Regions from separate parts of the Homo sapiens genome. Here region 2 is linked to region 1. The links come from fine-mapping of genetic effects on gene expression. Tissue or cell type: whole blood. Region 1 holds a variant in brackets; the other region holds the start of a gene. All regions are shown on one strand. Distances are between the middles of the regions.

What was found. PIP is the estimated chance that this variant, and not a neighbour inherited with it, causes the effect.
Region 2: it holds the start of EPPK1, and the variant in region 1 is fine-mapped to the expression of EPPK1 in whole blood (TOPMed, PIP above 0.99).

The regions. Positions count from the first base shown.
Region 1 is chr8:143,928,090-143,933,407 of GRCh38, forward strand. PLEC (plectin) reads right to left here. Exons shown (of 32, transcript NM_201384.3): 13 at 5,108-5,262; 14 at 4,704-5,022; 15 at 4,546-4,623; 16 at 4,311-4,472; 17 at 4,041-4,145; 18 at 3,848-3,943; 19 at 3,445-3,570; 20 at 2,295-2,447; 21 at 2,055-2,209; 22 at 1,847-1,973; 23 at 1,557-1,740; 24 at 1,325-1,482; 25 at 1,014-1,192. Among named protein-coding and RNA genes, the nearest start is that of PLEC, 8.8 kb to the right of the region's middle. RefSeq lists enhancers at 131-260, 651-900, 4,125-5,060 and a silencer at 387-516. The variant T/C (reference allele first, on the strand shown) is at 2,687.
Region 2 is chr8:143,876,480-143,881,633 of GRCh38, forward strand. EPPK1 (epiplakin 1) reads right to left here and starts at 1,988. Exons shown (of 2, transcript NM_031308.4): 1 at 1,959-1,988. RefSeq lists a silencer at 2,042-2,131 and an enhancer at 2,698-3,340.

The DNA.
Region 1 (5,318 bases):
AAGCCCAGACCCAACCCTGGGGGTCAGCTGACCCTGTGGTCAGAGGCTTGCTTCAGGAGAAGAACAGCCTTGGGGAGAAGGAGGTTGGGAGCCTCTGTAACACAAGGACACTCAGGACCCAGCCTGGAGAGGGGGTGCGCCAGCCAGGAACGGCAGACCCCAAGGCCCCGAGACAGGACGAGCCCACTGGCTGGATGACAGCGGCATCCTGGTGCCCACAGGGCCTGGAAGCGTAGTTCTCAGCCCTTGCAGCCCAAGACTGGGCGAAGGGGACACCGGGGTGGAAATGGCACCCTGTGGTAGCCAGCGGCGGCCCTATCACTGTGCTGGTTCTGTGAGGAGTAGACAGCGGGTGGACCTGTGGTTTGCAACACAGGAAGAGGCGGCGGCCCTATCACTGTGCTGGTTCTGTGAGGAGTAGACAGCGGGTGGACCTGTGGTTTGCAACACAGGAAGAGGTGGCGGCCCTATCACTGTGCTGGTTCTGTGAGGAGTAGACAGCGGGTGGACCTGTGGTTTGCAACACAGGAAGAGGCGGCGGCCCTATCACTGTGCTGGTTCTGTGAGGAGTAGACAGCGGGTGGACCTGTGGTTTGCAACACAGGAAGAGACTATGACATAACACATTGGAAATAAATGCCAGAGGCCCTTAAGTCCAGGCCAGGAACAGGACAGACGAGAGGCAGGGTGCAGGATTCCTTACTGTGCCACTGAAAGTGGATCCACAGCTTCCCCACCTCACTCAGCAGCCGCTGCCCAGCTCCACTGTCTCTTCCCCACACCCGAATCTCATCACCAGGAAGTCCCCCGGCCGCCACTGTCGAAGCGTATCCAGCCCTGAACTCTTCTCACCACCTCTGCGGCCACCACCCCAGCTGGGCCTCCCGCCTCCTGGCCAGATCTCTGAACAGCCCCCAACTCGTTCCCTCCTGCACCCTCCTGCAAGGTCACAGCCCTCACCCCAGCACCCCCCAGCCGACCCCAGCCCCTCGCCTGTGGCCAGGTGCACTCACTTCTCCAGGTAGATGGCAGACAGGCTGCGGACCTGCTCCAGCTTGCCCAGCGTCAGCTCCAGCTCCGAGCGCAGCGTGGGGGCCGCAGGCGATGGCTCTGGTAGGGCCAAGACCTTCTCGGCCTCGGCAGAGAGCCGGGCGACCCCCTTGCCCAGCCCCTCCACCTCTGCCTGTGCCTTCTGCAAAGACAGGGAGTGGGAACGCACTCATCACCGAGCGCAGCACACAGCGCCCCTTGAAGGCCAAAGGAGGGAGGGTGGGAGGAGGGATGGGGAGAGGGATGGGACTGGATGGGGGGGGACGGCCCCTGCCTGCTGCTCGGCGATGCGCTGGGCACACTCCCGTGCCGGCTCTTTGTCCAGCGGCAGCCGCAGGCGGTGCACGGTGCGCGTCTCACAGGCCTCCAGCTGCAGCCGGATGTCTTTGAGCTCGGAGATGCAGCGCTGGCAGCGAGACTCTTCCTGTGCACCTGGGGAACACATGTGGGTCACTCCACCGCCCACCTCGCACCAGCCCAACCGCCCCAGCCCTGCCGTGCCCTACCCTGTTCCAGGCTCTGCAGCAGCTGCTGGTAGTGGTGGCTGCAGGAGCCGTACTCGCGCTCAGCCATCAGCCGGTCCTCGGGTCCGAAGCCGCCCGCGTCCTGGCTGTCCCGCAGGAAGGCCTGGTAGTGCAGCTCCAGGCTGTGCAGGGCTTGGCGCTGCTCCTCTGGCTTCAGGGTGCGGAACTGGGGGAAGCACGTGGGGCTGAGTGCCGGGCGAGGCGGCCGTGCCCTGCACAACGCCTCTCCCCTCCTCCCACCCAGAGAGCCCCCGGCTCGGGGGCAGGCGTACCGTGGCCAGGGACCAGGAGCGGATGAGCTGCACGTCGCGGCGAAGGCTCTGCCAGGCCAGAAGGCTCTTCATGTCCACGTGCAACTGGTGCCACAGCGTGACCAGGGCCTGGTGCTGGGCCTCCAGCCTGGCAGGTCAGGGCTACAGTCAGCGTCACCAGCGCCCCACCCGCCTTCCAGCCCCCACCTGCTGAGCCCCCGCCACCCACCTGGTGACGGCCTCCTGGGCCTCCTGGTTGGGCGGGGGCACCAGGAAGCACACGGAGGGCACGGCGGCCTCGCTGCCGGAGCTGCTGAGCACCTTCCAGTGGGACGGCTGTGCAGGGCCCACCAGCTGGCACTCGTCACCCTTGTGCACAGTCACCTGGGACGGGCAGAGTCGGTGAGGACATGGCCACACCCTGCCCTGCCTGGCCACGCCCCCCAGTGGACCCCCGGCCTGCGCTCACCTCCACCTGCTTATAGTCGCACACGGCCAGCAGGGGCAGGCGGCCCCGCATGGGGTGGGCTGGGTGGCGGGGCTTCAGCTGCACGACGGCCTTGGCCCGCTTGGCCAGGCCTGAGAGGTGGCCCTTGTACTCGTTCAGCTGTTCCTTCTCGTCCTGTGGGGGAGGGGCAGCATCCAGACGAGGGCCATGGAGACCCACAGGCCTGCCCCAGGCACCCCCAGACCCCGGGACCAGGCCTGTGGGGCCCTCCTGATGCTCCCGGGGTGGCAGCACTTGGAAGCAGGAGGTATAGCTGGGACAGGCCCCGGGGGTTGGCCCCAAGCAGACCCATGCACCCTCGCTCCTTCCCAACCCAGACAGGGCACCCTCCTCTCACCCCAGCTCACCCACCA[T/C]GTCCTCCCAGCTACGCTCTGGTCCCTACAATGCCCTCGCCCCTTGCCCCTCCCCTGCGGGCTGCAGAAGGTACTGCCTCCTCCCATCCCACCCCTCTGCGGGGGCCAGGCCGCAGGACGGCACACACCTGGGAGCTGCCGGCTCTCCCCCCGGCCCAGCCCTGCCGACCTCAGAGGCCATTTCAGTCTCCAGTCCCTCTTCCCTGTCACTCCCCACTGTGCACCCGCCCTCCTGGGTGATCCCACCCCTGCTCCCAGAGCACAAAGCCCAGTTCCACTCTGCCCGCTCCAGATCTCAGGCCAAACAGCTGGTGCCCCTTCTATAGTACAAGGGCTGGCAGTGCTCCTTCTATAGCACAAGGGCTGGCGGTGCCCCTTCTACAGCACAAGGGCTGGCGGCAGCTGCTGACTTCAGGCTTCCACTCACTCTGTGGCTATGGAGATGGGGGCGGCCCGGCTTGGACCGGCTGCCTCTCGGCTCCCCACATCCTGCCTCATTCCCCCCTTGGCTGACCTCTACACCTCCCATGGTGCCTCCCAACTCCTGCTGGCCCCTCCAGTTGCCCCCTAGTCTCCAGAGTACCCATGCAGCCCAGAACATCCTGCCTCATTCCCGCTTCGGCTGACCTCTACACCTCCCATGGTGCCTCCCAACTCCTGCTGGCCCCTCCAGTTGCCCCCTAGTCTCCAGAGTACCCGTGCAGCCCAGACTCCAGGCCAGCCCCTCCTGACACGCCCCTGCACACCCCCTCCCTCACCTGGGCATCCTGCAGCAGGTCCTCCAGCCGGGTGACGGTGGCGGAGCGATCACAACTGTATTTCCTACGCAGTGCCTCCTGCAGCTTCTGCAACTGCCCCTCGGCCTCCCGCACATCTGAGAAGAACTGGGGCAGCGGGAGGGGGTCACGCCAGGCTACCTGGGACCAGAGCCCCAGCCCACAGTTGTCCCAGGGCAGGCCCAAGACGGGGGCACTGAGGAAGGAGTGGCAAAGCCCCCAGGAGGCCTGGGGAGCACCCCTGTCCAAGGCCCCGGTCAGGCTGCAGGCAGCAGCTGGCAACGTCTGCAGACAGGAGGGCTCCTGATTGGAGCTGCCGAGGGGGTCCAGGGGCTCCTGCAAGGCTGCCGCTGAGCCACAGTGCGGAGGGGGCTCCGGTTCTCACCTGAAAGTAGGCAGCGTTCTCCTTCAGGTGTGCCTCGATACAGCAGCACAGCTGTAGCATCCAGCTCCACTGCGTCTGCAGGGCCGCCTGGAAGGACTGCGGGACAGCAGGTCCCGGTCAGGCCCCGCCCCGCCCCGCCTGGGGACCCGGCACGGCCCCCCCCGCAGCCCCGCCCCTACCCAGGGAGCCCCACCTCCACCGTGGGCCGGGCCGGGTGGTCCTCCCGCAGCAGCCGGTCCCCAGCATTTTGGAGCTCCTTGATCTTCTTCTCCTTCAGCTCCAGCTCCCGCATCAGCGCCTGGCACCAGAGCAAAGGGTCTCAGGGACGGCCGGCCACACCCGGCTCTGCCACGCTCCCAGCAAACTCGACCCAGGGCCCCCACTGGTCTCTGACCATAGGGGACGGCCAGGGCACAGCTGGGGAGGGGGCTGTGGGGTTCAGGGCAGCTGGGCCACCGCTCACCGAGTAGCTCTCCTTCTTGGCGGTCATGTTGGTGTTGCGGTCGCTCCAGTCGAAGCCCACCTCCTCCTCCTCCTTCTCATTCAGCCACATTAGCTCCTTAGTGGCGGCTGCCACAAAGCTGTGCAAGCTCTCCAGGGACCTGAGGCGGGCCTTGGAGGAGTTCTGTGGGCAGGAGGGTGCGTGTCAGCAGGCCGCGGGCTACCCACCTCCCCCGGCTGGCCCTGCCCCCACTCACCAGCAGCTTGGCGTACTGCAGGTCCAGCCGACCCAGGCAGTCACGGTAGGCACCCCGGGTGGCGGGGGAGAGCTGGCCCTGCAACAGATGAGACGGTGAGGTCTGCAGTGGCTGGGCCCGGCCCACCCCCGCACTGCCCATCGCTCAGCGCCACCCACCTCGTCACTCCGTGCCCGCTCGATCTTGGCCCGGAATTCTTCGATGGACTGGTGCAGGCCTCGGTGGCTGCCCAGCTGCGCCTCCACGCTGGGCAGGTCCACACCCCACTCAGCGCCATCCACACGGTGCTGGTTCTCCTCCACCCAGGCCAGCAGGTCCTGCAGGTAGCGCAGAGTGGAGTCCTCCAGCTCGGGGCGCCTCTGCACACTCTGCAGAGTCACCTGGGCCACCTGGGTTGCAGGGGCCGCCACGCCTGCCTTCAGCCGTAGGTTGTACTCGGTGCGGATGGCTACCAGGCGCTCGTGCAGACGGTACACCCTGGGGCAGCAGAGGACTCAGGTAGGTGTTGGCGGGCCTGGGGCCGTGTGTACCTGGGCTTCAGGGAGGGCAGGGCGGGGCCCACCTGCGGTACATCTGCTCGCCCTGCGGGTGCCGTCCATCCTTGAGGGTCTGCACGTCGTTGAAGAGCAGCCGGATCATGCTATCCGCCTTGTCCAAGTCCCGTTCCACCTCCCCCGCCCGCTGTGGCACTTTGCCTGCAGCCAGCAGCCGGACATCCTGCAAGGTCGTTGCCATGACTCGGAGCACAGCTGATCCCCCTCTGACCTCACAGG
Region 2 (5,154 bases), 52 kb before region 1:
GGTACATGAGACGGCAGGACAGGCCAGCTTCTCCTTCGTCCACCTGCTTCCTCCTCCCTTCCCTTCCTGAGGCCATCCTGAGACCACTCCCGGTTACCCCTGCCTCAGACAGACTCTGCTTCTGGGAACCCAGCCTGGGCGCTTTTGTGTCCACCTCTACTGGCACCTGCCTCCCCTAGGGCTGGGCCCTCTCCAGCACGCCTCGTTCCAGGACCCTCCAGGATCTGTGAGCCTAAGGCAGCCACTCACTATGGCATCCAGGCCAGACGAGGGGCTTCTAGGGGGTCAGGGCCCTGCCCTGTCCCCTGACATCCGGCCAGGGATGGCGGTGAGGAAATGAGAGGAGCACCTGATTTCCCAGCAAGGGGGAGGGGCAGTGCGGGCCAGGGTGGGGCAGGGCCAGCGAGGGCGGGGCAGGGCCAGTGAGGGTGGGGACAGCACCTTGGGCGGGCCCCTGACCTGCGCACAGGCCGCCAGCCCAGACAGGCCGCGTGCTAAGCGGGCCTCGTAAGCTCAGGCAAGTGGCTCAAGTTCCCCAAACAAAGAGGAGATCCAGGGAGGAAGGCTGGAGACAGGGCGCTTGGGAGCAGGGAGTCGGGGGCAGGCTTGCCCTGCGTGTGTGAGTGTGCCTGCCAGTGCATGCCCCGCACCATGCGTGAGATGCGGCCTGTGGCTGGCTGCACCACTCCCTATCTCTTCCTGACCTTGGGCCTGGTATGAACCCCTCTGGGCCCTGCCCCTTCCCTGGGCCCTGCCCCTTCCCAGGCTTGGCAGGAGGAAGGCCCGGGAGTGGGTGTCTTGACTCCATGTGGGGCCTGGGAGGGCAGCTGGACAGAGGGTCCGGAGCGAGGGGGGGCAGGGGGTGCAGCTTCGAGTGTGGGGGCATCTGGAGGAGGTGGCTGCTGCCTAGGAGAGCACGGGGTCAGGGTTAGGGTGATGGGGTGGGGAGGAGGCCGAGCAGATTTCCCCGGAGCCTGAGGCACAAAGGGCCCCTCCTGTGGATTCCCCACTTCAGGTGGCCCCCAGGCCCCAAGTGGTGGAGGGCCGTTCCTGAGGAGGGTGGGTCTGCATCTCTTGGGTGAGGTCACTGTCTGTCACCAGACTGCCCGGCAGGCCCCCACCGCAGCCTGGGACAAAGGTTGGGGAGGCTGCAGCCGCCTGCCTGAGTCAGGTCAGGACAGACCCTGGCAGCTGCCTGGGCCCACACAGGAGGCAGCAGCCTTAGCTTCTGCCCGGCTGTGTGCCCTTGTGGGAAGACCCCACCCACCTGCAACCTGCACCATGATCAGAGATCAGTGGCCCCAATAACAAGCTTGGCACAGTGCAGCGGGGGCCCAGGGCAGGGAAGCAGAGCCCTGGGCCCAAGTGATGAACAGGGCCCTTCCTGCCTCTGCCTCCCACGGGTCTCCAGGCGACCGTGTGACCGCTTACCTGACCCGGAGTGGCCACCCCTGGGACCGCTCACCCAACAGCAGGCAGCTTCCCCGGATCCGTGACGCCTCCCTCCCGGCAATGTTGCCAGGAGTCACCCCTCTCAATTTGTCGGCCTAGCTGCCTCCTGGCCTGGGCGTTCCCCACCCTGCAGAGCGTGCCCCGGGCGGTCCTCGCTGCAGGGAAAACCGCTGGGCCTGCGAGACCCCCGCCCCTGGCCGCCTCTCCCGTGAGGGCTCGGGGCCGGCGCCTCCTCTTCACCGGCGCCCGGGACTCAGGGGCGCCACTTCGGACTCGGAGCTCAAATTGCCCAGGGCGGGAAACCTGCCCGGCCAGAGCCCAAGACCCCGCTGGCCGCCGCGCCCCTACCCTGGCCTCGGCGTGCGGCTCCAGCGGGGATCCGGTTTCCTTCGGCGGCCGCCGCCCCGCCCGGCCCCGAGCCCGCACCCGCACCCGCCGCACCTGCCCGCACCCGCCGCACCTGCCCGCACCCGCCGCACCCGCCGCACCCGCCGCACCCGCCGCACCTGCCCGCTCGCCGCTCGGTCCGCAGTGTCTCCGCGCGCCCGCTCCGCCCGCATTTCAAGCCCCACAGGCCCCGCCCCCGTCTAGGGCGGCGCCCAGGTCGGGGCCCCGACGCGGGGCGGGGCGGGGCGGGCAGGTGCCGGAAACCCCGCGCGGCCCGGGCCTGGCGCTTGCACCCCGGGCAAGGGGCGGCGGCTGGGCAGCCGGGACCCTCCCCTCGTCCCCAGCAGGGAGTCACCGCGAAGGAACGCAGGGCGGGCGCGGAGGCGTCCTGTGCCCTTCAGAACAGCTTTTTTTTTTTGGGAAAGGAGTTTGGAGTGAAACGCGGACCGGCCAGAGCGGCGGTTTCTATCCCCACAAGCCACTAATGCGGTGCGGGCTGGTGTCCCTGCCTCCAGCCCCGACCCCACCTTGTCTGCTCAGCTTCCTGGGGACGCTGCTTCACGTCGTGTGTCTGCTGGGTCCAGGGGTCTTCAAGGCTCTCCTTGGCAGGCCCCCCTGCCCCCATGACGTTGTAAGAGCTGGGATGTCCTGCCTGGAGCAGTGCCAGGCCTCACCCCCCGGTCTGGCTCCTCCACCTGGGCACAGAGAATGTTCCCTGTCACCCTGGGAGTACCTGGTCCCCTCTCTGAAGCCCATCCTGGCACCCACCTTCCAAGGCTGGGGCATGCCAGAGACACTGGGCATGGAGGCTCACAGCCTCGGGGGCTGGCCTGGGGGCAGCCTCAGCCTGGCACGGGAACCTTCCATGGATCTTCTGGAGGGCCCTCCCCTTGGCTGCCCCGATATCCCAGGTGGGCAGGGCCACGGAAGTACAGGGCCCAAAGCCCCTCCTCCTCTGTCCCCAAGGCCCCTCCTCCTCTGTCCCGTAGTCCTGGAGGTCCTGAGGGCTCAGGTGCTCCCCACCCCCACAAGTGCCCCCTTCTCCCAAGCTCCAGCCCCCACCTCTGCCTGAGTCATTCTTGACCAGAAAATCATCCAGAGCCAGCCAGCCACCTCCAATGCACACCATGAGGGTAATTGCAGGCGCCCACGCAGGTGCAGGAGGGACAGGTTAGGCCTTCAGGGGTTAGGGTGCTTGGGACCACTGCCCTGGCTCTGCTCTCACCCACCCACCAGGTCCACACTCACACCTGCTCACCCAGGCTGCCTGGACCCTGTCCACACCTGCCACACTGGCCGCACAGCATGGCTGCTGCCGACTGCGGGGCCCTGACCCCAGAGGAGCTCTGGTGGAACCCGCATTTCCCCAAGGCACTGCCAGGCCAACCGCATCCATCCCCAGCCCTGCTCACCGGATGCCTGGACACTGTCTGTGTGGTCTTGCTGGGAGGCATGGTGGTGCTGGCTATGGCCTGTGGCCTGGAGCACACCCCAGAGCCACTTCTTCCTGCGGTGAGCCATTGCAGGCAGCGCCCCTGCCAGGCCACAAAACCTGGGTGTATGCCAGCCCCTCGCTGCAAGAAGGGGGTGTTAGGCTGGCCAGACCAAGCCTTCTTGTGTGCCCAGGGACGGGCCACATGCCTGTCTGCTCCTCACCCCTCCGGTATAGGCAGGTGGCACAGAGCTGGCCCTGCTCCGCTGCACCCATTTCTGCCCGTCACCCCTCCAGTATAGGCAGGTGGCACGGAGCTGGCCCTGCTCCGCTGCACCCATTTCTGCCCGTCACCCCCCTGGTATAGGCAGGTGGCATGGAGCTGGCCCTGCTCTGCTGCACCCACTGGCATCTGTCCCCTGGCTCCTCTCCCTCGGCTTTGTCTTCCTGTGACTCCAGATCCCCTGCCCTGTGGTGGCCCCCAGCCCAGTGACCTCTGGGGACACCTCTGGGGGCAGACTTGGGTGCCTGCCCTACTCCCCAGGTCCCTGGGCCACTCCCAGTCAGGGCTTCTGGGAGCCACCACCTCCCCAGGGGCTCCAGTCCAGTGCTTCAGCCCAGCAGTCCCCGGAGCCACAGGCCACTCCTCCAGCCCCCAGGCCTGGGCCTATACCACCTACACAGCAAGGAAGGGCATCAGGGAGGGTGTCAGGAGGTGAGCGAGAGGGCTCCCATGCCCAGTACTGCCCACGGCTCTACCCACCTCCTCCTGGCACTGGCACCTAGCTTCCCCCTGCAGGTCAGGGAGGCTCTCAGAAGACCTGGTCCAAGGAGGGAGGTCCCAGAGCCCCAAGACCAGTGCCCACGCTGCCCCTGGGCTGCTCCATGGAGTCACCGTGCTGGTTGGAGCCTTTGGCCAGGATCCCCATTGGTCCCTTGGAGCCTGGCATGGCCCAGCTCGAAGGGGAGTGCCCGCCATTGCTCCATAAAGCATCTGGGAGCAGGGTGTCCCCTCCACGGCACATGGCCCAGAGAGGAGACAGGGCAGATGCAGGCAGGATGGAGGGCCCGGCGGGAGCGGGTGGGACAGAGCTGAGCAGCAGGCTGACCTCTCCACCAAGGGCCTGGACATAGCAGCCGGCAGCTCCAACCGCAGGCCCAGGTACAGGGGGCGGGCAGCCTTGGGGGTGAGCCTTCCTCTCAGGCTGGGTGCCCTCACAGCAAAGACATGGGCTGCTCTCCCAGTGGCTCTCAGGGGACACCTGCCATCAGGGGAGCCCAGTGATGCAGCTGCCTCCGGGGGCAGGGAAGGGCTGAGGTGGGGGTTGGAGCCCTGCTGCCTCTGTCCCCCACGGAACCACCCCCCACATCCCAAATTCTCTTTCTCCACACCCTCCTCGCTGTGCGTCTCACTGATCCCCCATCCCCAGTCAGCCAGGGTGATGACACGGGCTGGCCCAGCTTCTCCTGCCCAGGCCTCGGAAGCCGGCCGGCACGAGGAGCACAGCCTCTGCCTGCCAAAGGCCCCCATGCTGCTCGGTCAGGGCCAGGAGAGGAAGGGCCAGAGGATTCCTCCCAACTGTGGCTTGAACTCCATCCCCCAAATTCCTACGTCGAAGTCCAGACTCCAAATCCTCTGGGAATGTGACCTTCTTTGGAAGCAGGGTCGTTGCAGATGCGGTTAGTTGGGATGAGGTCATGCTGGAGTAGGCGGGCCTCATCCCATGTGCCTGGTGTGCTTTCAAAAAGGGGCATCGGACACAGACGAAGACCCACAGAAAGGGAAGATGATGTGAAGATAACAGGAAGAAGATGCCGAGGAGAAGCCTGGAGCTGGGTCTCACCTCATAGCCGCTGAGGGAAATAGCCCTGCCCACATTTCC